7 linked regions of the Homo sapiens genome follow. The protein of the gene in region 4 purifies or fractionates together with the protein of the main gene of each other region. This does not show direct contact. Each region holds a gene or a part of one and is shown on either strand. Other genes may lie near its edges. The genes, in order: ZBTB20, SLC25A16, MTO1, TRNAU1AP, HELZ, SLC25A15 and EXPH5.

The links.
Region 1: the proteins of TRNAU1AP (region 4) and ZBTB20 purify together in Homo sapiens (affinity purification with mass spectrometry; one large-scale study listed by BioGRID and IntAct). This does not show direct contact.
Region 2: the proteins of TRNAU1AP (region 4) and SLC25A16 purify together in Homo sapiens (affinity purification with mass spectrometry; one large-scale study listed by BioGRID and IntAct). This does not show direct contact.
Region 3: the proteins of TRNAU1AP (region 4) and MTO1 purify together in Homo sapiens (affinity purification with mass spectrometry; one large-scale study listed by BioGRID and IntAct). This does not show direct contact.
Region 5: the proteins of TRNAU1AP (region 4) and HELZ purify together in Homo sapiens (affinity purification with mass spectrometry; one large-scale study listed by BioGRID and IntAct). This does not show direct contact.
Region 6: the proteins of TRNAU1AP (region 4) and SLC25A15 purify together in Homo sapiens (affinity purification with mass spectrometry; one large-scale study listed by BioGRID and IntAct). This does not show direct contact.
Region 7: the proteins of TRNAU1AP (region 4) and EXPH5 purify together in Homo sapiens (affinity purification with mass spectrometry; one large-scale study listed by BioGRID and IntAct). This does not show direct contact.

Annotation. Positions count from the first base shown.
Region 1 is NC_000003.12:114,335,789-114,339,288, forward strand, and holds part of ZBTB20 (zinc finger and BTB domain-containing protein 20), read right to left. Parts: coding exon 3,217-3,500; 3' UTR 1-3,216. UniProt on the Homo sapiens protein: May be a transcription factor that may be involved in hematopoiesis, oncogenesis, and immune responses. Plays a role in postnatal myogenesis, may be involved in the regulation of satellite cells self-renewal.
Region 2 is NC_000010.11:68,503,524-68,507,023, forward strand, and holds part of SLC25A16 (solute carrier family 25 member 16), read right to left. Parts: intron 3,196-3,500; coding exon 3,062-3,195; intron 173-3,061; coding exon 109-172; intron 1-108. UniProt on the Homo sapiens protein: May be involved in the transport of coenzyme A in the mitochondrial matrix. Very little is known about the physiological function of this carrier.
Region 3 is NC_000006.12:73,475,237-73,478,736, reverse strand, and holds part of MTO1 (5-taurinomethyluridine-[tRNA] synthase subunit MTO1, mitochondrial), read right to left. Parts: intron 1-3,500. UniProt on the Homo sapiens protein: Component of the GTPBP3-MTO1 complex that catalyzes the 5-taurinomethyluridine (taum(5)U) modification at the 34th wobble position (U34) of mitochondrial tRNAs (mt-tRNAs), which plays a role in mt-tRNA decoding and mitochondrial translation.
Region 4 is NC_000001.11:28,570,085-28,573,584, reverse strand, and holds part of TRNAU1AP (tRNA selenocysteine 1-associated protein 1), read right to left. Parts: intron 2,410-3,500; coding exon 2,247-2,409; intron 1,719-2,246; coding exon 1,685-1,718; intron 1-1,684. UniProt on the Homo sapiens protein: Involved in the early steps of selenocysteine biosynthesis and tRNA(Sec) charging to the later steps resulting in the cotranslational incorporation of selenocysteine into selenoproteins. Stabilizes the SECISBP2, EEFSEC and tRNA(Sec) complex.
Region 5 is NC_000017.11:67,235,197-67,238,696, reverse strand, and holds part of HELZ (probable helicase with zinc finger domain), read left to right. Parts: intron 1-3,500. UniProt on the Homo sapiens protein: May act as a helicase that plays a role in RNA metabolism in multiple tissues and organs within the developing embryo.
Region 6 is NC_000013.11:40,792,611-40,796,110, forward strand, and holds part of SLC25A15 (mitochondrial ornithine transporter 1), read left to right. Parts: intron 1-547; 5' UTR 548-616; coding exon 617-671; intron 672-3,500.
Region 7 is NC_000011.10:108,587,269-108,590,768, forward strand, and holds part of EXPH5 (exophilin-5), read right to left. Parts: intron 1-3,500. UniProt on the Homo sapiens protein: May act as Rab effector protein and play a role in vesicle trafficking.

The sequences.
Region 1 (3,500 bases), on a different chromosome or scaffold from region 4:
GGATCCTCCACCTCCTCCCCCACTCCCTTTTTTTTAAGAGACACTTCCTTTACAGGGAAAGGATGATAGACTCCTCAGGGTTTCAAGTCACCTGCAGCTTTTTCTCTACATGTTCTACCAAAAGAAAAGGTGGATTCTAACCCAATTGCTTAGCATTTTACATGGCAAATCAGCATTAAGGCAAATGGGTCTCTCTCAGATTTGAGAAACAGAAAGCTACACGTGGCCCATAATGGCACCTAAGATCAACTTTTCAGGCGGTATTAGTGAAAATTCTTCCTACTTTGCTAAATTTGAACAAAGACACTTTCAAATCTACTGTGAAACAGTTTAAAATATTTTAAAGTGGCTTTTGGCCTTCTTTCATTTGTAACATGTATTGAGTGATTTCATGTCATTGTCTCCTAGCTTTAAGAGTTTTTTTCTTAAGGTCAATCTTCTCTTTTCATTTTATGGGTGGAATCACTTGTTTTCCAAAATATCAAAACAATTCCATGACATAGTTAATTAATGCTCCCTCTATTGGTGGTAAGTGGAAATATTAGTCTTACAACACTGCTATTTTAAAAAGCAAAATTAGCAATAGAAAAATGAACTTACTTTATCTCGGAAGCTGTTCCTCACTAACTGTTAAAACAGATCAGTTTTGGACATACAGTTCTTGGCAGGACTCCTCTTAGAAATCACAATAGGTTACACTTAATAGTCAGTTAACCACCCAAGTTTACATTAAAACTTCTAGCAAAATATCCACTGAATTAAGCACTGTGGGACCAAATCAAACTCACAAACACTTCAGTTACACTAACCTTACAAAGCATCACAAAGAACTTATGAAAAAGATCCAAGTTAACCAAATGTCTAAAATATATGAATAAAACCAATTTAGTCATTACAGAGTTGTTTGTGTTGGAAGATTTTCCCTCGTTTGCTGCACAGTTTTTGTAAATAAAATGCTGACAGGAAAATTAGAAGGAAAATTAAATTAAAATGTAATGTAATTTTGAAACTAAAATACGCTCTCCTTTCTTCTTTTTAAAACTGTAGTTTGGTGTTTTGCTTTGTTTAAAGATTTGCTTTCCCCTAAGTATGTTAAAATATGCCCAGCAATGAAATCACTTTGGGAGTTTCAGCTAGGTTTAAGAATTCCTATATTTGAGCTGGAATCCCTTCAGGACACTGTCTATAATGAAAATGTCTCTATTATAACACCTTGATCAGGACCGAGGAGAGAAATCCCTACTAGGAAGAGAGAGTGGCATCTGGTATGATGCAATAGATTGGTGGTCTTTTGAATGGTGGCTGTTGGCATCTGGGAATTTTTTTGTTAATTTCCCTAAAACCTTTCGAAGAAGCAAGGGTTAATTCGTCATCTAAAGAATGATCATCTTATTCAGCCCTCTTAACCATGGTGGAAACAGTCAGAAGGTGATATTTGGAAGGAAAAAAGTAATTTTGGCATCAATGCATCTTGATCTATAACAGGCTTCTCATAATGATGCTCTTTGTAGTTGGGAAGGGTGAGGAGCTATGGCAGAGTTTTGTGAACTCCTCTTCCTGGCTGATCACAAAAGAAAAGACCCCATTTATCAAGACTTCTAGACTATTAGTGTTTCACTAAGAAAAAAAGTAAAGTCAATAGAAATTCTAGAATTGTAAGATCTCAATGAAATTTTGGAGAAGCAAGCAATCTCTTTCTGAAAGATAAAGTCTCTTCCATGAAAAAGAACAGAATTCTAGATGAATCAGTTGAAAAAATTATTCAGTGGGGCAACTTAAGCTTGCTAAAGTCAAAGAACTACATATCAAAATACAAAGCAGCAATTCAAATTACAGCAGGGATGGGCTGGCCACAGAGGCCCTCATCAACCCAGGCAATACTTAAAATAATAAAAATTAAGAAAAATTAAAAAAAATATGAAGAAAATATCCTTCCTCTCTTTCAAATATAACTTTAGTTGCCTTTTATTCTTTCTATCTGGAAGCAGTATCGCTAACCTTAACAGTCTTGACTTACCAAAAAATATATATATGTGTGTGAAATAAAATAAAAGAGAAGGAATTGGTGGCAGTGTATGCAAAACCAAAATGAAAAAAATTACTTTTAACAATTTCACTTTTTTTGTTTTTTTTTTTACACAAATACTGTTGTAAATATATTAAAAAAATCAGCATTCTATCTGGTAAACGTCACTTTTGCCCCTCTATAAAATTTTGAATTAAAAAAGCCTCAAGAACTTTTTATTGTTCCCCCCACCCTCCATTTCTTTTTCTTTTTCTCTTCCACAAGAATATATCCTGACACTTTTTTTTTTTTTGCAAAGATTGTTGGAAATAATCCTTCTCTTGTACCTAGAAACATAGGTGCAAATTTCTGATATCTTTGTTTTATCTGCATTCCTGCCTTTCATGAAAGTCCCTCTTGATTGTGCTGAGGCTGTGGCTCAGCGAAGACACTGAATAAATACGATAGCCACTGTTGCTTGTTGCTTGTCCAAGTCTTCCTGGCTTCTGCTGCAAGAGGGGGATATGGAGAAGGTGGGCCAGGGTGTGTGGACCCGGGCAGAATCTGGGGAAGAAGCCTGCCATTCGTCTTTCTTTCCCACACCACCGAACCCACTGCCCTTCCCACCCCCACAGCCCTTTTATGAAATCAGACAACGTGGTAGGTGGAAAACAGCAGGGCCTTTCCTCTGGGTTTTCAACCAGAAGTGATATTCCACAGTTTTAACTGGTTACTGTGAAGTCCAAGCGGCCAGAATTGTGAAAATGTCCACTGAAACACTGCAAGCGGTGTACTTAAAGACAGTAGGCCTTTTAGATTTTGTTATATATTTTTTGTAGTGCTCTTCACAAGTGGAAATTTTTTTTTTTTTTTTACTTTTTTTTAAAAGATTTTTTTGTAAAGAAGGGTTGTATTTAGAGGCCAGTAGCTAGAGATCCAACCAGTGGACCTCTTGAAGCACTACCAGGCCTTAAGGCCACCATCCGAGGGAGACTGGGAAAACTATTATTCACCCAAGCCTCCGGAAATGTAATGTACCAGCAGGCAAAAAACAGTTCTTCATGTAGTACAAAATGAAACGAAACAAAAACAAAAACAGAAAGTAAAAATGAAACCAAAACATTTCTTAAATTCTAGTGCCATAGCTTTTTTGTTTGTTTGTTTTTTGTTGTTGTTTTGTTTTGTTCATAAGAAAGAGAGAAAGATACTACTTATCCGTCAGACACATGCATCCTCATGTGGTCGTTGAACTGCTCGATTTGGTCAAACTTTGCTGGGCAGACGGAGCAGACGTAAGTGGTCCCCTCCGTGCAGGCCACCACGCCTGGGGGGCCAGCGCGGGCACCTGGGGGTGTGCCTGCAGGGGGGGTCCCATTGCTGGCACTGTGCAGGGCCACGTGTCGCTCCAGGAGGGTCTTGTGAGAGAACTTCTTTTTGCAGATGTAGCACTCGTAGGACTTCTCTCCCCGGTGGAGGCGCATGTGCACGTTGAGGG
Region 2 (3,500 bases), on a different chromosome or scaffold from region 4:
ACCTGCAACCTGTGCTTTCCCCAATGGCACTCATATAATCTAAACCAAATTAAATATTTTAATAGAAAATTAATTTGTCAGAAATAAAATATACCTAACTCCTCTTACCTGCCATGGATCCAGCCATTAATCTGTGCACATGACCTGAAATTCCCAGCTTCGTAGTAATTAACTAGAAAACAAGAACACTGAATTAAATGAGATATTTTTTAAATGCTGCCCATTTCACTGTTTAATAATGAAGATTTATTTCAAGAGTTACAGGACTAATAAAAAGGAAATTAATAATAAATGTGAACGAAATGAGCACAATTAAATACAGCTTGGCAGTGTTATATCACAGCAGAAGGGGATATTTCCTCTGTAGTCTCTGCTTTAATTTTTTGCATTTCTGCAGAAGCAAGCTAGCTTAGTATTGCTAAGTATATGATACTGTGTATTAAGGAACACAAGCCCTTAACAAGTGACTGGGGGTAGTAGGAATAAACTGCTACTTTTTTTTTTTTTTTTTTTTTTTTTTGAGATGAAGTCTCGCTCTGTGTCCCAGGCTGGATTGCAGTGGCACGATCTCGGCTCACTGCAACCTAGATTCAAGCGATTCTCCTGCCTCGGCCTCCCAAGTAGCTGGGACTACAGCCGTGTGCCATTACGCCCGGCTAATTTTTTATTTTTTAGTAGAGACGGGGTTTCACCACATTGGTCAGGCTGGTCTCGAACTCCTGACCTCAGGTGATCCACCCACCTCGGCCTCTCAAAGTGCTGGGATTATAGGCTGAAGCCACCGCACCCAGCCTAATTTTTTATTTTATTTTTTAAATGCTCTATAGACAATGAAGTCCTGATACACAAATGGCATCAATTCTCTTTGGCTGACTAGCTTAGAATGTTGTTCCGATCTCTGCTGCTTGTGTTTTTTTTGTTTTTTTTTTTGAGACAGAGTCTGGCTCTGTCGCCCAGGCTGGAGTGCAGTGGTGCGATCTCGGCTCACTGCAAGCTCCGCCTCCTGGGTTCACACCATTCTCCTGCCTCAGCCTCCTGAGTAGCTGGGTTTCACCATGTTAGCCAGGATGGTCTCGATCTCCTGAACTTGTGATCCGCCCGCCTCGGCATCCCAAAGTGCTGGGGATTACAGGCATGAGCCACCGCACCCGGCCTTGTTTTTTGTTTTTTGTTTTGATTCGGAGTCTCACTCTGTCACCCAGGCTGGAGTGCAATGGCACGATCTTGGCTCACTGCAACCTCCGTATCCCGGGTTCAAGCGATTATCCTGCCTCAGCCTCCTGAGTAGCTGGGATTATAGGCATGCGCCACCACATCCAGCTAATTTTGTATTTTTAGTAGAGAAGGGGTCTCTCCATGTTGGTCAGGCTGGTCTCAAACTTCCGACCTCAGCTGATACTCCCACCTCGGCCTCCCAAAGTGCTGTGATTACAAGCATGAGCCACTGTGCCCAGCCAGTTTCACTATTTTGTTTAATAAGAAAATCCAAAGTCACAGTGTTCCTCTCCTACAATTGAGTAACAAAAAGCACACTAAAGGCTGGGGCCCACAGATAGCTTGGGCCCAGGAGTTCGAGACTAGCATGGGCAACACAGTGAGACCCCATCTCTACAAAATATTTTTTAAAAAATCAGCCAGGCCTCTTCTCCACCTCTGAAAAAGAAAGAAAAAACAAATTAGCCGGGGGTGGTGGCACATGCCTCTAGTGCCAGTTACTCAGGAGGCTGAAGTGGGAGAATTGCTTGAGTCCGTGAGGTTGAGGCTGCAGTAAGCCAGGACCACATCACTGCACTCCAGCCTAGGTGACAGAGAAACTATCTCAAAAAAGAAAGAAAAGAAAAGAAAAGAGGGAGGGAAGGAGGGAAGGGAAACACATTAAAAATATATTAATATTATATGGATTTATTATTATCTTCTTTAAAGATATTCTAGCTCTCATTCATTAGGAGTGAACATAAAGAATTTACTTGGCCGGGTGCAGTGGCTATGCCTGTAATCCCAAGAATTTGGGAGGCCAAGGTGGGCAGATCACCTGAATCAGGAGTTCCAGACCAGCCTGACCAACATGGTGAAACCCCGCCTCTACTAAAAATACAAAATTAGCCAGGAATGGTGGTGCATGCCTGTAAGAATCTGGGAGGCAGAGATTGCAGTGAGCCAAGATCATGTCATTGCACTCCAGCCTAGGGAACAAAAGTGAAACTCCGTCTGAAAAAATAAATAAATAAAGGCCGGGCACGGTGGCTCAAGCCTGTAATCCCAGCATTTTGGGAGACGGAGGCGGGTGGATCACGCGGTCAGGAGTTCAGGACCAGCCTGGCCAAGATGGTGAAACCCCATCTCTACTAAAAATACAAAAATTAGCTGGGTGTGGTGGCGGGCGCCTGTAATTCCAGCTACTCAGGAGGCTGAGGCAAAGAACTGCTTGAACCCAGGAGATGGAGGTGGCAGTGAGCCAAGAGTGCACCACTGCACTCCAGCCTGGGCAACAGAGTGAGACTCCATCTCAAAAAATAAAATTAAATAAATAAATAAATAAATAACTCATAAATGACTAACAATTCTGGAATCGGTAATTCCAAAGACAAGTTATATTTAAAATCTTAAGCTGTCACAAGTCTTATTCCTTTAAAAAGGCATTGCTATATCAAAAGTAACTTTTTGGCCTGGTACCATGGCTCATGCCTGCAATCCCAACACTTTGGGAGGCCAGGAGTTTGAGACAAGCCTGGCCAAAATGGCAAAACGCTGTCTCTACTAAACATACAAAAATTAGCCAGGCATGGTGGCATAGGCCTGTAATCCCAGCTACTCAGGAGGCTGAGGCAGGAGAATCGCTTGAACCCAGGAGGCGAGGTTGCAGTGAGCCTTTCAAAATCGTGCCACTGTACCCCAGCCTGGGCAGCGAGACTCTGTCTCAAAAATTAAAAAAAAAAAACCAATAATTTAACTTTTTAAAAATATGAAACTTTTACATATTTTTAAATGTCCAAAGCAAATGCCTGGTCAAGCATGCATGATATTCAAGAACGCAAAAGAGAAAAGATCAAAGTTTAACTACCGTTTTATAATGCTCAAATGCCATAAACTGGATTGCACCATAGGGAAAGATTCGAATCATCATTGCACCATTTCCTTTATACAATCCAAGGAATCCTTCTTTTTGAGGAACAGCACGCAATGCAGAAAATACTCCTATTTTTAGAGGAAAAATGCTGTTAAAACAGAGAAAATTATCTAAACCTAAATTTTCATGACAATCACAGATAAAGATTAATGTGCCATCACTCAAGATATAATTTTGCTTGAGGGATTACATGAATAGTAATTTCTATAAAACAGTTAAACCTACTAAAAATGCATCATATATCCAAATAATATAAATAAGCACACCCCATATAATATAAAACCTACTGTAGAAACAACTACAAATTACAGCAAATTCTATTTATAATAATAGCAAATTATATTAAACTATAGCAATCTAAAAAATATTAACA
Region 3 (3,500 bases), on a different chromosome or scaffold from region 4:
AACTCTGTCTCTACTAAAAAAATCCAAAAAATTAGCCAGGCATGGTGGCAGGTGCCTGTAATCCCAGCTACTTGGGAGGCTCAGGCAGGAGAATCGCTTGAACCCAGGGGGTGGAGGTTGCAGTGGGCCAAGCTTGCGCCATTACCATTGCACTCTAGCCTGGGCAAGACTCTGTCTCAAAAAAGAAGAAAGGGTTATCATAATTTGCATACTACCAAAGCAAATATATAAAAGTATCTTGCTCAAAGTAACAGAATATTTGAAGCCATACATCAGGATAACACTCACCAGAAACTAGGACCATCAATTATTTTTTTTTTGTACAGGCAGGGTCTCATTATGTTGCCCAGGCTGGTCTTGAACTCCTAGGCTTAAGTGATCCTCCTACCTTGGCCTCCCAAAGTGCTGGTATTACAGGTGAGAGTCACTGTGCCTGGCCAATTCTTCATCCTCAATCTTAAACACATACAATATACTTTTTTTTTTTTTTTTGAGACAGAGTCTTGCTCTGTCGCCAGGCTGAAGTGCAGTGGCATCATCTCTGCTCACTGCAACCTCTGCCTCCCGGGTTCAAGCAATTCTGCCTCAGCCTCCCAAGTAGCTGGGACTACAGGGGCATGCCACCATGCCCAGCTAATTTTTGTATTTTTAGTAGAGACGGGGTTTCACCATGTTGGCCAGGATGGTCTCAATCTTTTGACCTTGTGATCCACCTGCCTTGGCCTCCCAAAGTGCTGGGATTACAGGTGTGAGCCACCATGCCACGCCACATTTTTTTAAAACTCGAGAGATAGGTAAAAGTGGCCTCTACACTTCAAAAATGTCGGCACCATTAAAGATTGACAAACTGTTCCAGATAAAAGACTTTAAAGAGAAATGACAATTAAACGCAATGCATGACCCTTGATTGGGAATAAAAAGGTTGTTTTGGGCTAGGCTTGGTGGCTCATACTTGTAATCCCAGCACTTTTGGGGCCCAAGGCAGGCAGATCCCTTCAGTCCATGAGTTTGAGACCAGCCTGGGTGACACTGCAAAAACTCATCTCTACAAAAAATACAAAAAGTAGCCAGCCATGGTGGTGAGCACCTGTGGTCGCAGCTACTTGGGAGGCTGAGGTAAAAGGATCATCCAAGCCTGGGAGGCGGAGGTTACAGTGAGCTGAGATTGCACCACTGCACTCCAGCCTGGGCAACACAGTGAGATCCTATCTCAAAAAAAAAAAAAAAGCTGCTTTGGACAATATTTACCAATTAGCAAAATGTGACTACGGACTTTATGTTAGATAATAGCACTGTATCAGTGTTAAATTCTCCGAATTTCTTTTTTTTTTTTTTTTTTTTTTGAGACATAGTCTTGCTGTTGCCCAGGCTGCAGTGCAGTGGCACAATCTCAGCTCACTGCAACCTCCCCATCCCTGGTTCAAGCGATTCTCATGCCTCAGCCTCCTGAGTAGCTGGGATTACAGGCGCATGCCACCATGCCCAGCTAATTTTTGTATTTTTAGTAGAGGTGAGGTTTCACCATATTGGCCAAGCTGGTCTTGAACTCCTGACCTCAAGTGATCCACCTGCCTTGGCCTCCCAAAGTGCTAGGATTATAGGCATGAGCCACTGCGCCTGGACTCTTTTCTGTCTTTAAAAAAATTTTTTGGTCAGGCGCAGTGGCTCATGCCTGTAATCCTAACACTTGGGAGGCCAAGGCGGGCAGATCATTTAAGAACAGCAGTTCAAAACCAGCCTGCCCAACATGGTGAAACCCTGTCTCCACTAAAACTACAAAAATTAGTCAGGCGTGTTGGCGGGTGCCTGTAATCCCGGCTACTGAGGAGGCTGAGGCATGAGAACTGACTGAACTCAGAAGGCGAGATTGCAGTAAGCCGAGATTGCACCACTGCACTCCAGCCTGGGGGATAGTGTGAGGCTCCGTCTCAAAAAAAAAAAAAAAATTTAAATTTTATTGTCCCTGCATCGTACTCTGAATTTCATCATTGCATAAGGGTTATATAAAAGGATGTCTCTGTGCTTAGTTGAGATATAGGCTTAAGGTAAGAGCTCATCATCTCTGCAATTTACTCCCAAATATTCCAGAAAAAAAAGAATAAGAATAAATGTGTATATTACCATCTTACACAGTAAATATGGACATAAATTGATATATCTATAGCGATAAATATGGTAAAATATTAACAGTGAGTGACGTTCAATGGTTTATAGGAGTTTGTTGTGAAAAAACTCTTACATTGAGAAAAGTCTTACAACTTTTTCTCGATGTTGCTTACTTTTTTTTGTTTTTCTCCGTCTTTTTAAAATAAAATTATATGCGTTGAGGGTTAACTTTCTTTTTTTTTTTTTTTTTTTGAGATGGAGTCTTGCTGTTGCCCAGGCTGGAGGCTGGAGTGCAGTGGCACAATCACAGCTAACTGCAACCTCTGCCTCCCAGGTTCGAGCAATTTTCCTGCCTCAGCCTCCCGAGTAGCTGGGATTACAGGCATGAGCCACCATGCCTGGCTAATTTTTTTATTTTTTTTTTATTTTTAGTAGGGATGGAGTTTCACCATGTTGGCCAGACTGGTCTTGAACTCCTGACCTCAAGTGATCCACCTGCCTCAGCCTCCCAAACTGTTGGGATTACAGGCATGAGCCACCACGCCCAGCTGAGGGTTAACTTTCAATAGATCGCAGCGAGGAAGTTGCTCTGCTATGTCTGAAATCCCACCCCAGAAGCAGGTCATCTAAGAATGGTTCAGTGTCGGGTTCTCCATAAAAATGCATTGTGTAATGGGCAAGGGGGCGGCTGCCTTTCCAGCAGCACCACCTGATATCGTTTCAAAAGCTTAATTTAGGCCGGGCATGGTGGCTTACGCCTGTAATCCCAGCATTTTGGGAGGCTGAAGGTGGATCACCTGAGGTCAAGAGTTTGAGACCAGTTGGGTGCGATGGCTCACACCTGTAATCCCAACACTTTGGGAGGCCGAGGCGGGCGGATCACCTGAGGTCGGGAGCTCGTGACCAGCCTGACCAACATGGAGAAACCCCATCTACTAAAAATACAAAATTAGCCAGGTGTGGTGGCACATGCCTGTAATCCCAGCTACTTAAGAGACTGAGGCGGGAGAATTGCTCGAACCCGTGAGGTGGATGTTGCAGTGAGCCGAGATTGTGCTGTTGCGTTCCAGCCTGGGCAACAAGAGTGAAATGCCATCTCAAAGAAAAAAAAAAAAAAAGAGTTCAAGACCAGCCTGATCAACATGGTGAAACCCTGTCTCTACTAAAAATGCAAAAACAAATTAGCTGGGCATGGCGGCGGGCACCTGTAATCCCAGCTACTAGGGAGGCTGAGGCAGGAGAATTGCTTGAACCCAGGGGGCGGAGGCTGCAGTGAGCTGAGATCGTGCCATTGCACCACAGGTTGGGCAACAAGACTGAATCTCCATCTCAAAAAGCAAAACAAAACAAAACAAAAAACGCCTATTTGACCAGGTGCGGTCGCTCATGCCTGT
Region 4 (3,500 bases):
GCCAGGCTGGTCTAGAACTTCCGACCTTAGGTGATCCTCCCGCCGTGGCTTCCCAAAGTGCTGGGAGTACAGGGGTGAGCCACCGCGCCTGGCAATTTTTTTATTTTTAGTAGAGACGGGGTTTCACCATGTTGGCCAAGATGGTCTCGATCTCTTAACCTCATGATTCACCCTCCTTGGCCTCCCAAAGGGCTGGGATTACAGGGGTGAGCCACCGTGCAAGGCTTAAATATTTTTAATTAAAAAATTAATAATGGGCTGGGCACGGTGGCTCACCCCTGTAATCCCAGCACTTTGGGAGGCGAGGCAGGCGGATCACGAGGTCGAGTTTGAGACTAGCCTGGCCAAGATGGTGAAACCCCGTCTCTACTAAGAATACAAAAATTAGCTGGGCGTGGTGGCATGTGCCTGAAATCCCAGCTCTTCGGGAGGCTGAGGCAGGAGAATCACTTGCACCCGGGAGGCGGGCTTGCAGTGAGATGAGATTGCGCCACTGCATTCCAGTCTGGGTGACACAGCAAGACTCTGCCTCAAAAAAAAAAAAAAAAGAAAAAGAAAAAATTAATAATGGCTATTACTATGTTGTAATAGGATATGGGGTGATTTTCAGTTTCATTATACTTTACTATATTTTCTTTTTCTTTTTTTTTGAGACGGAGTCTCGCTCTGTCTCCCAGGCTGGAGCCCATTGGTGCGATCTCGGCTCACTGCAAGCTCTGCCTCCCGGGTTCACGCCATTCTCCTGCCTCAGCCTCCCGAGTAGCTGGGACTACAGGCGCCCATCACCACACCCGGCTAATTTTTTCTATTTTTTAGTAGAGACGGGGTTTCACCGTGTTAGCCAGGATGGTCTCGATTTCCTGACCTCACAATCCACCTGCCTCGGCCTCCCAAAGTGCTGGGATTAGAGGCGTGAGCCACCATGCCTGGCCCATACTTTACTATATTTTCCAAATTTTCCATCCTAACGATGACTTAAAAATCAGGAAAATATGTCTTTTAAAATATATTGAAAAACAGAAAAAAAATAAAATAAATAAAAAATGAATTTTACAAACAGTCAAACAAATAAAAGGTAACAGTATTATCGGCCAGGCACAGTGGCTCATGCCTGTAATCCCAGCACTTTGGGAGGCTGAGGCGGGCGGATCACCTAAGGCTGAGAGTTTGAGACCGGCCAAGCCAACATGGAGAAACCCTGTCTCTACTAAAAATACAAAATAATTAGCTGGGCATGGTGGTGCATGCCCGTAATCCCAGCTACTCGGGAGGCTGAGGCAGGAGAATTGCTTGAACCTGGCAGGTGGAGGTTGCGGTGAACTGAGATCATGCCATTGCACTCCAGCCTGGCCAACAAGAGTGAAACTCCACCACACACACACACAAAAAAAGGGTAACAGTATTATCGTTAGAGGCCCACATACCAGGATAGAATGCCACATGTCAAGGGGGTGATGGGCTCTCCTGGAGCTGCCTGTCCCAGGCTCTCTGGGATCTACACTTACACCTCTGGGTAACACCCGACACATCTTACCATAATTACATATTTGTCTGGCTCTCTAACCAGAATGTAAGTTCTTCCAGAGCAGAATTTATCTTGTCTTCCCTCTAGCTGAGAGCACAGTGCCAGCCACAGCAGTCACCTGATAATGGCTGACAGAGTAAGGAACGTATGAACCCTTACCTTCCAATGCATCATCTCCAACTTCTTCATATGTCTGCCAAGAGACCAGAGATGTGGGTTAGGGGCATGGTGAAATCCTGGCCCAGGACCACAGTGGCTTATATTTTTTATTTTTTTTGAGGTGGAGTCTAGCTCTGTCACCCAGACTAGAGTGTAGTGGCGTGATCTCGGCTCACTGCAACACCCGCATCCCAGTTTCAAGAGATTCTCCTGCCTCAGTCTCCTGAGCAGCTGGGATTATAGGCGCCTGCCACTATGCCCAGCTAATTTTTTGTATTTTTAGTAGATACAGGGTTTCACCATGTTGGCCAGGCTGGTTTTGAACTCCTGACCTCAGGTGATCTACCTGCCTCGGCCTCTCAAAGTGCTAGGATTACAGGTGTGAGCCACTGGGCCCTACCCACAATGGCTTATTTTTAACAAGAGGAACTGGACTGCTTCAACTTTCCCTATTTTTTCTGAAGCCCAAGCCCCTGTCCTTACCAATCCCATCCTAGAGAATGACCTGTTTCTAGAGGAGAAACACAACCCAAGGGGACCAGTCTTGCCAAGTCATGGTTACCTGCATGGTGCTCTGGGTATAGCCATACTGGGGGTAACTGTAGCTGTAGCTGCCTGTGTTCTGGTCATAGCCCCACTGAGCATAGTAGTTCTGGTACTGCTGATAATACTGGTTGTAGCTATAACTGTACATCTGACTATATTCCACTGGCTTTACACGGCTCCTTAAATGAAGACAGAAACAAAAATAAGTGTAAGCAAACATTTCCGTAACACTGCCTATGTGGCCACAGACTATTTTAAGTGCTTTATACCGATTAACTTTTTTTTTTCTTGAGACAGAGTCTTGCTCTGTTGCCTAGGCTGGAGTACAGGGGCGCAATCTCGGCTCACTGCAACCTGCGCCTCCCGGGTTCAAGCGATTCTCCTGCCTCAGCCTCCTGAGTAGCTGGGACTACAGGTGTGTGCCACCACGCCTGGCTAATTTTTTGTATTTTCAGTAGAGACAGGGTTTCACCATGTTAGCCAGGCTGGTCTCGATCTCCTGACCTCGTGATCCGCCTGCCTCAGCCTCCCAAAGTGCTGGGAGCCCGGCCACCAATTAACTCTTTTAATCCTCAAAACAACCATATGCAATAAGTGTATCATTATTCCTATTTTACAGATAAGGAAACTGAGGAACAGAGAGGTTAAGTAATTTGTCCAAAGTCACACAGCTAATATGAGAGTATGGCTCCAGAGACCATGCTTTTAATACAGGAGATTTTAATGGATAGGTTTGTCTCTCTTAACAAACTATGTCAGGACTGGCAAAAGGATATCCTGTTTAAAAAAAAAAACAAAACAAAAAAGGGCTGGGTGCGGTGGCTCACACCTGTAATCCCAACACTTTGGGAGGCGAAGGCAGGTGGGTCACCTGAGGTCAGGAGTTCCAAGACTAGCCTGGACAACATGGTGAAACCCCATCTCTACTAAAAATACAAAAAATTAGCTGGGTGGGATGGCGCGCCCGCAATCCCAGCTGCTTGTGAAGCTGAGGCAGGAGAATCGCTTGAACCTGGGAGACAGAGGTTGCAATGGGCCTAGATTGTGCCACTGGACTCCAGTCTGGGCAATAAAAGTGAAACTCTGTTTCAAAAAAAAAAGAAAAGAGACAGACGTGGTAGCTCACGCCTATAATCCCAGCCACTTGGGAGGCTAAGGAAGGAGAATCGCTTGATCCTGGGAGGCCCAGCTAATTTTTGTACTTTTAGCAGAGATGAGGTTTCACCATGTTGGCCAGGGTGGTCTTGAACTCCTGGCTTCAAGTGATCCA
Region 5 (3,500 bases), on a different chromosome or scaffold from region 4:
TTATTTTTTTGAGACGGAGTTTCGCTTTTGTCACCTAGGCTGGAGTGCAATGAATGGCACGATCTCGGCTCACTGCAACCTCCGCCTCCTGGGTTCAAGCAATTCTCCTGCCTCAGCCTCCTGAGTAGCTGGGATTACAGGCGCCCGCCACCATGCCCAGCTACTTTTTGTATTTTTAGTAGAGCCAGGGCTTTACCATGTTGGCCAGGCTGGCCTCAAACCCCTGACCTCAGGTGATCCACTCGCTTCGGCCTCCCAAAGTGTCAGGATTACAGGCGTGAGCCACCGCACCCGACCTAAAATTATTTTTAAATTAATTTTCTTCCTTTTTTTTTTTTTTTTTTTTTGAGAGACAGAGTCTTGGCAGTGTCGCCCAGGCTGGAGTGCAGTGGTGCAATCTCAGCTCACTGCAACCTCTGCCTCCCAGGTTCAAGCGATTCTCCTTACCTTAGCCTCCCAAGTAGCTGGAATTATAGGTGCCTGCCACCATGCCTGGCTAATTTTTTTGTATTTTTAGTAAAGACGGGGTTTCATTATGTTGGCCAGGCTGGTCTCAAACTCCTGACCTCATGATCCACCTGCCTTGGCCTCCCAAAGTGCTGGAATTACAGGTGTGAGCCACCATGCCTGGCCATGAATTTTCAGTACTTGTCTTTTGTGAGATATCTTCATCCGCAAAAAGCTTCAGGTCTTTTTTTTTTTTTTTTTGAGATGGAGTCTTGCTTTTGTTGCCCAGGCTGGAGTGCAATGGGGCGATCTCAGCTCACTGTAACCTCTGCCTCTTGGGTTCAAGTGATTCTCCTGCCTCAGCCTCCCAAGTAGCTGGGACTATAGGTGTGCGCTACCACGCCTGACTAATTTTGTATTTTTACTGGAGATGGGGGTTCACCATGTTGGTCAGGCTGGTCTCGAACTCCTGACCTCAAGTGATCCACCCGCCTTGGCCTCCCAAAGAGCTGGGATTACAGGTGTGAGCCACTGTGCCGGGCTAGCTTCAGCTCTTAATAAAATGACTTTCCATCCTCCCTTTTGCACTCTGGCTAAGACTTAAAAGAATATCTCCAGCTATTTTTTTACTCATCTGGTTTAAGCTGGACTTTTTAGCTTTGTGTTTTTTGTAGTTAAAAAAAAAATCTATCTACATTTTGCTTTTAATTGTTCTCAGGTCTCCTGGCCCCTGGTTCTTTGATTGTCTGAGTCCACACTGCCTTTTAACTGATACAGTCCACTGCTAAGTCAGCAAGTTAGCCTTGAGAATCCCAGAGACTTTAATGTGGCAATATTGTATATTTTTAGGGTTTACAGTGAAACTTGGGCTGACTACTTGCTGATTGGTTAAAGTAATAAATAAGTAAATTGTTAAAGTAATAAATGTTAAACTAATAAATAAATCAAAAAAATTGTTTTTTTTCGAGACAGAGTCTCACTCTGTCGCCCAGGCTGGAGTACACTGGTGGGATCTCGGCTCACTGCAACCTCTGCCTCCTGGGTTCAAGCGATTCTCTTGCCTCAGCCTCCCTAGTAGCTTGGGACTTTGCCATGTTGGTCAGACTGGTCTCGAATTCCTGACCTCAGGTGATCCACCCGCCTTGGCCTCCCAAAGTGCTGGGATTACAGGCGTGAACCACTACGCCCGGCCAGGTTCTTTGTTTCTTGAGTGTTCGCTTGTTTTGCATGATTTGTCTCCCACGGGTTCATAGGGATGATCAGAGGACCAATTGAGGCAGTTGGCTGGTCCTTGAAAAACTGGGGTTTGGGTTAGTATAGGTCATCATGACCAAGGAGAGTATGAAAACACTCAGTCAAGGCCAAAGTGAGCAGTAGAAGGGAGGGGTGGTCCTTTTGAGACTTTATCAAGCTTGTGTCCTGGAACCCCTTCATTTCCTTGGTAGGGTAGAACTTTATTATTTAATGTTGAATAAATTGATAATAAATAAATTGTTAAATGTTGGGTTATTATCCTAAGACAATTGATTTTCTTTTTGGCATTTCATTTCAAAATATACATTTTAAAATTCATTTTAAATTATGATACATTATAGTTTGATTTTTAAAAACTTACTATATCATGAAACATTTACATCTTATAGATTTTATAATTTAACTTTATATATTGAAAGGCTGCAAAAATAATTTCATCAAGTCATGCTACAATTTACCTAAGTCTTTTTATGTGAAGTATTTATACTGCTGTCTGGGTGGTTTTCAGTTAACACTTTAATCTACATCATTGTAGATACTGTTGCATTTTTTCTAATGATATCTTAAGGATAAATTTTGGAGTGTGTTATTATGTTAAGGGGTATCAGTGTTTTTATGGCTCCTCACATATATTGTCCTACTGTTTTCAAGGGTGTTATACCAGTTTGTGCTCCTAACAGATATATGGATATACCTGTTTTACCATAAGTAGTAGAGAAAACCATTTTTCTTCAGAAGTTTTTGTGAATTTAATAGTGTAAAATGGCACTTTCATTTCTTTGTTATATAATGTTGAATTTAACTATTTGAGCCTCTTTATGGTGAACTGTTTGTTGATATCAGTTGCTATATTATGCAATTAACTATTGTAGGCTTTGAATGGTAAGGCTGGTATAATATGGTCAGTAAAAATTGTTCACAAGAGTGTGTGGTCGAGGCTGGGTGCAGTGGCTCACGCCTGTAATCCCAGCACTTTGGGAGGCCAAGGCGGGCGGATCAGGAGGTCAGGAGATCGAGACCATCCTGGCTAACACGATGAAACCCCGTCTCTTCTAAAAATACAAAAAATTAGCCGGGCGTGGTGGCAGGTGCCTGTAGTCCCAGCTACTCGGGAGTCTGAGGCAGGAGAATGGTGTGAACCCGGGAGGTGGAGCTTGCAGTGAGCCGAGATAGAGATAGCACCACTGCGTACAGCCTGGGCAAAAGAGGGAGACTCCGTCTCAAAAAAAAAAAAAAAAAAAAAAAAGAGTGTGTGGTCAAAATGGTAAATGATCTTGGGAAGAGTGTTTGAAGGGGAACAGATGGATTATTCCAGGATTCAGTTCAGCAAGTATTTATTGGGCATCTGCTGTGAGCCCCTTTGTATCACTGCTCCTCTGAGTGGTTCTCAAGTTCTTGTGATGGCATGTGCTGGGTTGAAGCAGGACACTGCTTGAGGCTTGACCATTTGTGGGTTCTGGCTTCTGTTGTCTCTCTCTTTTTTTTTTTTTTGTGAGGGAGTCTCGCTCTGTTGCCCAGGCTGGAGTACAGTGACACGATCTCGACTCACTGCAGCCTCCGCCTCCCTGGTTCAAGTGATTTTCCTGCCTCAGCCTCCTGAGTATCTGGGATTACAGGTGCGCACTACCATGCCCTGCTAATTTTTGTATTTTTAGTAGAGACGGGGTTTCACCATGTTGTTCAGGCTGGTCTTGAACTTCTGACCTCGTGATCCACCCGCCTTGGCCTCCCAAAGTGCTGGGATTACAGGTGTGAGCCACCGCGCCCGGCCTTCTGTTGTCTCTTTGTGGCTGCTTGGA
Region 6 (3,500 bases), on a different chromosome or scaffold from region 4:
TCACCTTGTACAGATGAGGACTCCCAGCTGTAGAGGCTGAAGGAGCCACACTGCAGGTAGAGCAGGCATTCACCAAGGCGTGTGTGATCCCAGGGTGCAGCTCCCACCCTTGGCTGCCTGGGTGCTCTTTTCCAGACCTACTGTCTTGTGAGATCCCCTTAGGCACCCAGCACAGGCTGCTGTCTGAATTTAGAACTGAGCCTGTTCAATTGATGGCTCAACATAGGCCTCTAAAAAAACAAGTCTGATGCGGTTTGGTACACCTGTGGTTGGCTTACTTATTTGGTGTTCGTTTTTTCAGTTTTCAGAAAGGTCAGTTGAAGTGCTGCTGGTGGCTGTAGCATTGATACACAGGGGAGGTTTTTGATCTGTGAGCTTTCTAGGAGGCAGTTGCTAAGCTGCACTGATACCTTGAGCCCCTTTCCTTTGGAACAGTGTGGACCCCAGGTCATGGCTCCCAGAAGTTTAGGTTCTGTAATTTGGCTGCAGGCCTAGAGAACAGGATGCTGCAGACTTGGACTAATGGTGAACTCTTGCCTCCCCCCAGGGATATGTGGTGCCTGTCATAAGCTCCAGAGAGCTGCCTTCCACAAGACCAGCAGAAGAGTGGGCAAACATGAAATCCAATCCTGCTATCCAGGCTGCCATTGACCTCACAGCGGGGGCTGCAGGTACAGTCATGTGCCTCATCACCATGTTTCTGTCGTTGATGGATGGTGTATCTGATGGTGGTCCCATGAGATTATACTACCATATTTTTACTGTACCTTTTCTGTGTTTAGATACATTTAGATACATAAATACCACTGTGTTATAGTTGCCTGCAACATCCAGTACAGTAACATCCTGTACAGGTGTATAGCCTAGGAGCAATAGGCCATACCGAATAGCCTAGGTGTGGAGTAGGCTACGCCATCTAGGGTCAGGTGTGTATGCTCTATGATAGCACAATGACGAAATTGTGTAATGACATGTATTTCAGAACATGTCCCAGTCATTAAGCAATGCCTAACTATAATCCCAGAGAAAACCCAGTTCTCTCTATTCCTCAACTACTCTCTAAATGAGATCAAATGAAAGTGGTATGAAAATACTACCTTTCTCCCTCCAGTACTTTACCTTTGGGATTAATCCATTTGATGGAAGTTTAGTATTGTTCAGAGAGTAGCAGAAGCTAGAGGAGTGTCCGTTATTGTTAACACCTTGTCAGTCAGGGTGATGGGTGGAAGGTGCCCAGTACAGCTGGAAAACAGCTCAGAGGTGAAGCCACGTGTCCATTGTCACCTGGCTGGGATATGCAGGTGATGTGGTTCTTCACTTCAAGCCTGGCAGTCTTCAGAGCCCTTGTTGTGCAAAAATAACACCATAGCATCTCCTGGGAAACACCACTTACTGTCCCTGCTAGTGTTGGGAAAGAAAGGAGGACACTCTTAGAAATGTCTTTAAAAGGCTGGGCGCAGTGGCTCACGCCTGTAATCCCAGCACTTTAGGAGGCCAAGGCGGGCAGATCACCTGAGGTGAGGAGTTCAAGACCAGCTTGACCAACATGGAGAAACCCCGTCTCTTCTAAAAATACAAAATTATCCAGGCGTGGTGGTGCATGCCTGTAATCTTAGCTACTTGGGAGGCTGAGGCAGGAGAATCGCTTGAACCCCGGAGGCGGAGGTTGTGGTGAGCCAAGATCGCGCCATTGCACTCCAGCCTGGGCAACAACAGTGAAACTCTGTCTCAAAAAAAAAAAAAAAAGACATGTCTCTGAAAATGAGACTGATAATGGACTGTGTCTTAGAGCCGTGAAAGTTGTAGGATTTGCTGGGAATGTCAGCTAACCTGAGCCTAGGGGCCTGAGCCCAAGAGCCTGAGGCTCCCCCAGCACAGGGAGGTGCTACCTGTGATAAGGGGTAGTGCTGGCACCATGCAGGCTACTCCTTAGAAAGATCAGCTTGAACATGCAGGAAGAGCAGGACCCTCAGGCTGGGAAACAGGGCGGAATGGGAAGTGCATGGTGGTAATTTGGTTCTCCAGAGTCCAGAAGTAGGAGGAGTGGCTGGAATACTGATTGCCCAAAGGAAAACCCTGGACTACCCTGGGCTCCCGCAGGATTCTCATAGTAGTTGCAGCTCCCTGGAGTGGGGAGGCCAGCGGGGGTGTTGCCCAGTGCTGTCCTTATCCAGCACACCCCCCACCCCCACCACCAGCAGATGAGTATGGTCATGAATATGGTCACCTCATCAGTCATTTGCTCAATTGTGAAAAAGAAATTGTTCAGAGAAGAGCAAAGTGTTTTTCCATGAGCCAAAGGTCAGCCAGGGTATGCTAATGAGGAAGACTGGAGAGAGCGCGTCACCGTCACCGAGCCTAATGAGGAGCACTGGGCAAGGGCACTTCTCCCAGGGCAGAACCCACAAGGAGCGTCCCAGCCCCAGATGCCCAGGGAACGGAAGGCCAGTGGGGGTCTGCCCAGTAGTCTCTTGCCCACTGCGTGCCTTTAGGCTACAGCCTCCCAAGCCCCTTTCCCCCTCCCCTCCCCCATGCCACACTGGGGAGGACGCTGACCCTGAGAATGGTGCAAACATCTGCCTGCCCCAGGCCGCCTCTCACCAGCGAGTGAATGCTCTTGGGCTCAGTTCTGTTTCTGCAGAAGGAGGGTGTTTAGCCACATATAGTCTCAGCTTTTGACATTTTATGTCTTTCAGTCAATCTGTCAAAGATCTAGAACCTATGGTGATAGAATTTAAAAGTTTACCTTTTCCTATTTATGTGCATACAGGTATTTGGGTACCACATTTATAATTTACAAGTTAGTTTGAAAGATAGAAATTGCAACAGTATGGTTGGGAGCCTGGTATGTAAGGCATTTGCTGGTGGGCATGTTTTGAACATGTATTGATCCCTTATGTATACTGACACACTGTCCCCATCACTGTTGGACAGGTATTTCCCCCTGTGCTGGCGACACAGGGACGCCCCTCACCGAGGTAGAGATGCTGTGGGTAGTCTTAACTTCTGAGGACAACGAAGCCCATTCCTGGGGGGACAGGATAGGGAGGGGGAGCGAGACATGGTCTATAGGTTGGGGGCTGGGCAGAGGAGGTGCCTAGCAGTGACACAGAAACCTCTGTTCTGCTGTGAGGCCTATGGAATGCAAATGGAACCCACTTTTGAGGATCTTGGAGTCTTGGAGTGCTGGAGCTAGAGAGACCTTTAGACATTGTTGGCTCCAATGCTCGTTGGATATGTAGAAAAAGGCCCACAGAGGAGCAGTAGATTTGTTCAAGGTTACACAGCAAGATGGTGTGAAGACAGGGCAGGACTGTGATCCCTGGGTCCCTTGTCTGGTGTCGTTGCTGTCTCTGCTTTAGTACTCCGTAATGCATCTGCAGCACACTGGAGGGGAGGGTTAGTTTGGAGCCTTTGGGCCCTGCCTTTCTGGATGTGGAACTTGCTGGGCTTTGGGAATTTTCTGCCAGCCATTGATAGGAGCAGAGGACCTGTTGTGT
Region 7 (3,500 bases), on a different chromosome or scaffold from region 4:
CTGACCTCCTTTTGACCTTCATGTGGTTCTCAGGTTTAAGACCATCTGTGCTAATGAGGAATGAAAGTATTTTCTGACTAACCTTCACCTGACTTTCTTTCGCCCTTCACCTGGTTTCCTCAGATCTTTCTTTCCCTTAGTTTGTATTGCCTATAGCAGTAAGTTAAGTTCCATTTGACTAGGTATTGAGTACCGAAGTGTGTGAGGCTCTCCATCCCTGAAATAATCCTTGACCACAAGGAATCAAGGTTGATGTACAACTTACCATGTACCAACTTACCTGTGCACACATTAACATTGTAAAGAAAAGGACAAGGGCAGAAAAACATTTAGACATTTTTAAAAAGAAATTTACCCTTACAAGTTATTTATTTTTTAAAAGACATTTTTAAAAAGTATTTTACCTTCGTAACGGACATTTATGAAAGTAAAAAATAGTCAAACATTCCATATTTATTATCCAAAGAAACAGTTTTATTTATTTATTTATGTATTTATTTCAAGACAGAGTTTTGCTCTTGTTACCCAAGCTGGAGTACAATGGCGCGGTCTCGGCTCACTGCAACCTCCACCTCCTGGGTTCAAGCGATTCTTCTGTCTCAGCTTCCCAGGTAGCTGGGCTTATAGGTGCCAGCCACCAAGCCTGGCTAATTTTTGTATTTTTAGTAGAGATGGGGTTTCACCGTGTTGGCCAGGCTGGTCTCAAACTCCTGACCTCAGGCAATCCACCCATCTCAGCCTCCCAAAGTGCTGGGATTACAGGCGTGAGCCACAGCACCTGGCCCTATTTTTAATAACATATGATAACTAAAAAATAAAACAGTAGTAAAAGGGTTAAAGTCCCTTTAAATGTGATTCCCCAAAGATAATCATTTTAACAGTATAAAGTCTTCCTTATAGAATGCATATATGCATTTTTAACATAAATGGTTGCCAGCAATTTTTTCTATATAGGCAGATGGTATCAGTTATCTTCCCATACCCATTATGCCATTTTCCTTAGTAATAACATCTCCAACTTTTAGCTGAGCATTTGACTACATAGAATTGTGTGTTTTTTATTTTTATGGTGAATGGAGATAAAATAGCAAGAGATTTAAAGTGGATAGATCCCAGTCCTGGTTCTGTTATGAGCTAGATGGGCCAGGTGAGGAAAGTCACTTCAACTTTTTGGTACTGTAGGAGGCAGCACAGCACAGTGATTATGTACAGATGGAGTTCCCAAATCGGACACTCCCTAGCAGTATTATCTCAAGCATGTCACTTACCCTTTCTAAGCTTCCTTTGTCGAATGGAGATAAAGATATCCCTTAACTCATCAGGTTGTTGTAAGAATTAAATGAGATAGTGCACACAAAGAGCTTAGCATGGGTCAATACTCAACAAATGTTAGCTATTATTACAGTTGTTTTATTAGCTTTTGGAAAAGAAGATAATAGTATTTGCTTTATCAGGTTGAGGATGAGGATAAAAAAATATGAAAGACTTTATAAGCTAAAAGAGTTATAATATCACTAAGCTTAAAAAGAACACTGCTGCTTGGCATTGGGATATGGAACGATATTATTATAGTAGTTCTGTGTGTATTGCCTGTGGGGACAAATCCACAGGAGTAACTAGACAGGAAAATGTATCTGAGAGGAAGTTCTCCCTCAGTTTAAAGGAATTAACTAAATTGGATGCCATTGGAAAGTGCAGACAGCTCAGAGATCCGTGGTGTGTTAATCTGGTACTTTGTTATGTTTCAGAACTTGCTCAAGCCTCCTGAGCACACTTGTGACTTCCAGGCATTGTTCTTGTTGTCCCTTTTCCAGGCCACACAGGACTGCATAAGGGCGAGCTACAGTTCATCTTACACATTCTATCGCCAATGAAAACCTTTCATAGACTGAAGCCATTTGGGACAGAATCTGTGTTTTATTTTCCACTGTATTCTCAGGGCCAATCCAGTGTCTGGCACACAGTAAAAAGCCCAATCAGTAGACATCCAATGTCTCTAGAAACTCTGCCCCTTAGCCAGAGGCAGATTTCACAGGCTGGGAGAGGAGAGGGCAGGCAGAATGTGTAGGGGAGGCAGGAGGCTTGTGTATCTGGCTTTTAACCTCTGCCGGATGTGGCAGCTGCCACCAGCTATAGACCACTTTATGACTTTGACATATACAGTCCTGTTCAGACCTGTGCCACAGCTCAAGGATATTAGTGTAAATCAATCAGAAAAAACTAAATTCTGGAAAACCCTCCTGGGCTGCAATCTTGCCATGGAGCAAAAAATGGTCTAAATCTAGACATGCCATTTAAAAACTTGATTACTCCAGGCACCGTAACATCTGGTTCTGATGCCAGATAGATTTAGGTTCAAATTCTATCTCTGACGTTTATGAGCTGTGTGACCTTAGGCAAGTTCCTTAACGTTGCTAAATTTCAGTTTTCCTTCTATAAAAAGCCATTAATAATACCCCAAGAAATGGTTGTGAGGATTATTCAATCTTGATGGGTAAAGTAGTTTTGAAATAGATCTGGATTATAAATTCTGGCTCTGCTGCTTAAGTTGGACAAAATACTCGACCTTTTTTAATTGTTTCCTTCTCTGTGAAATGAGAATTAAAGTGTATACCTAATGAGGTTATTGGGAGGATTAATTAAATCTGTATAACATGTTTAGTACAGTGCCTAGTATATAGTAAGGGCCTAATAAATGTTAGCTGTCGTTATTACCACAATAATTACTATTATTACATAAAAAGGCAGCACTTAATATATGTTGGTGTGGCCATCTCCTCCACCTTAATCTCCTACTAATGAGAAATATCCAAGAATTGGACAATTGGGTCAAGCGTAAGGCGTATCTTGATAGATATTGCCATAATGCTCACCAAAAAGCTTGTAATCAACTTACAACGTCACTAACAATGTGCAAAATCTGTCCATTTCATTCCAACCCTCACCAACATTTTTTTTTCTGTCATTTTTAAAGGGGCAGCATGGTATCTCAAGGTTACTTCAATTTTCATTTATTACTGTGAGGGTAGACATTTTCCCATCTGTTATGTTTACTGTTTGGATATCTTCTGGTGTGAATGATTTATTTCTATCTTTTGCCTATTTATCAGTTTGAATCTTGGTGTTTTTCTTAAAAATCTGAATAAACTATATATTAGAAACATTAACTATTATATTTAATGCAAATACTTTCCTGGTAAGTTGGAGCCAGAGAGGTCTGGTACAGATGAGGGGAGATCAGGAGAAAGTTCTATGTGTTCAGGAACTTTTCTGTGGGTGGGGCTGCTGCCTTCTGCATGATGAACTCAACTACCCTCACACCTATCTCAGAACATCTCTGGCCCTGCATGACACTGTAGTTCTTTTTTAAAAAAAAATGATTTTATTTATTTTATTTTTAAAGACAGGGTCTCTACTGTGTCACTCTGGTTGGAGTGGAACAATCATAGTTCACTGCAGCCTTGAACTCTTGAGCTCAAGGGATCCTCCCACCTGAGCCT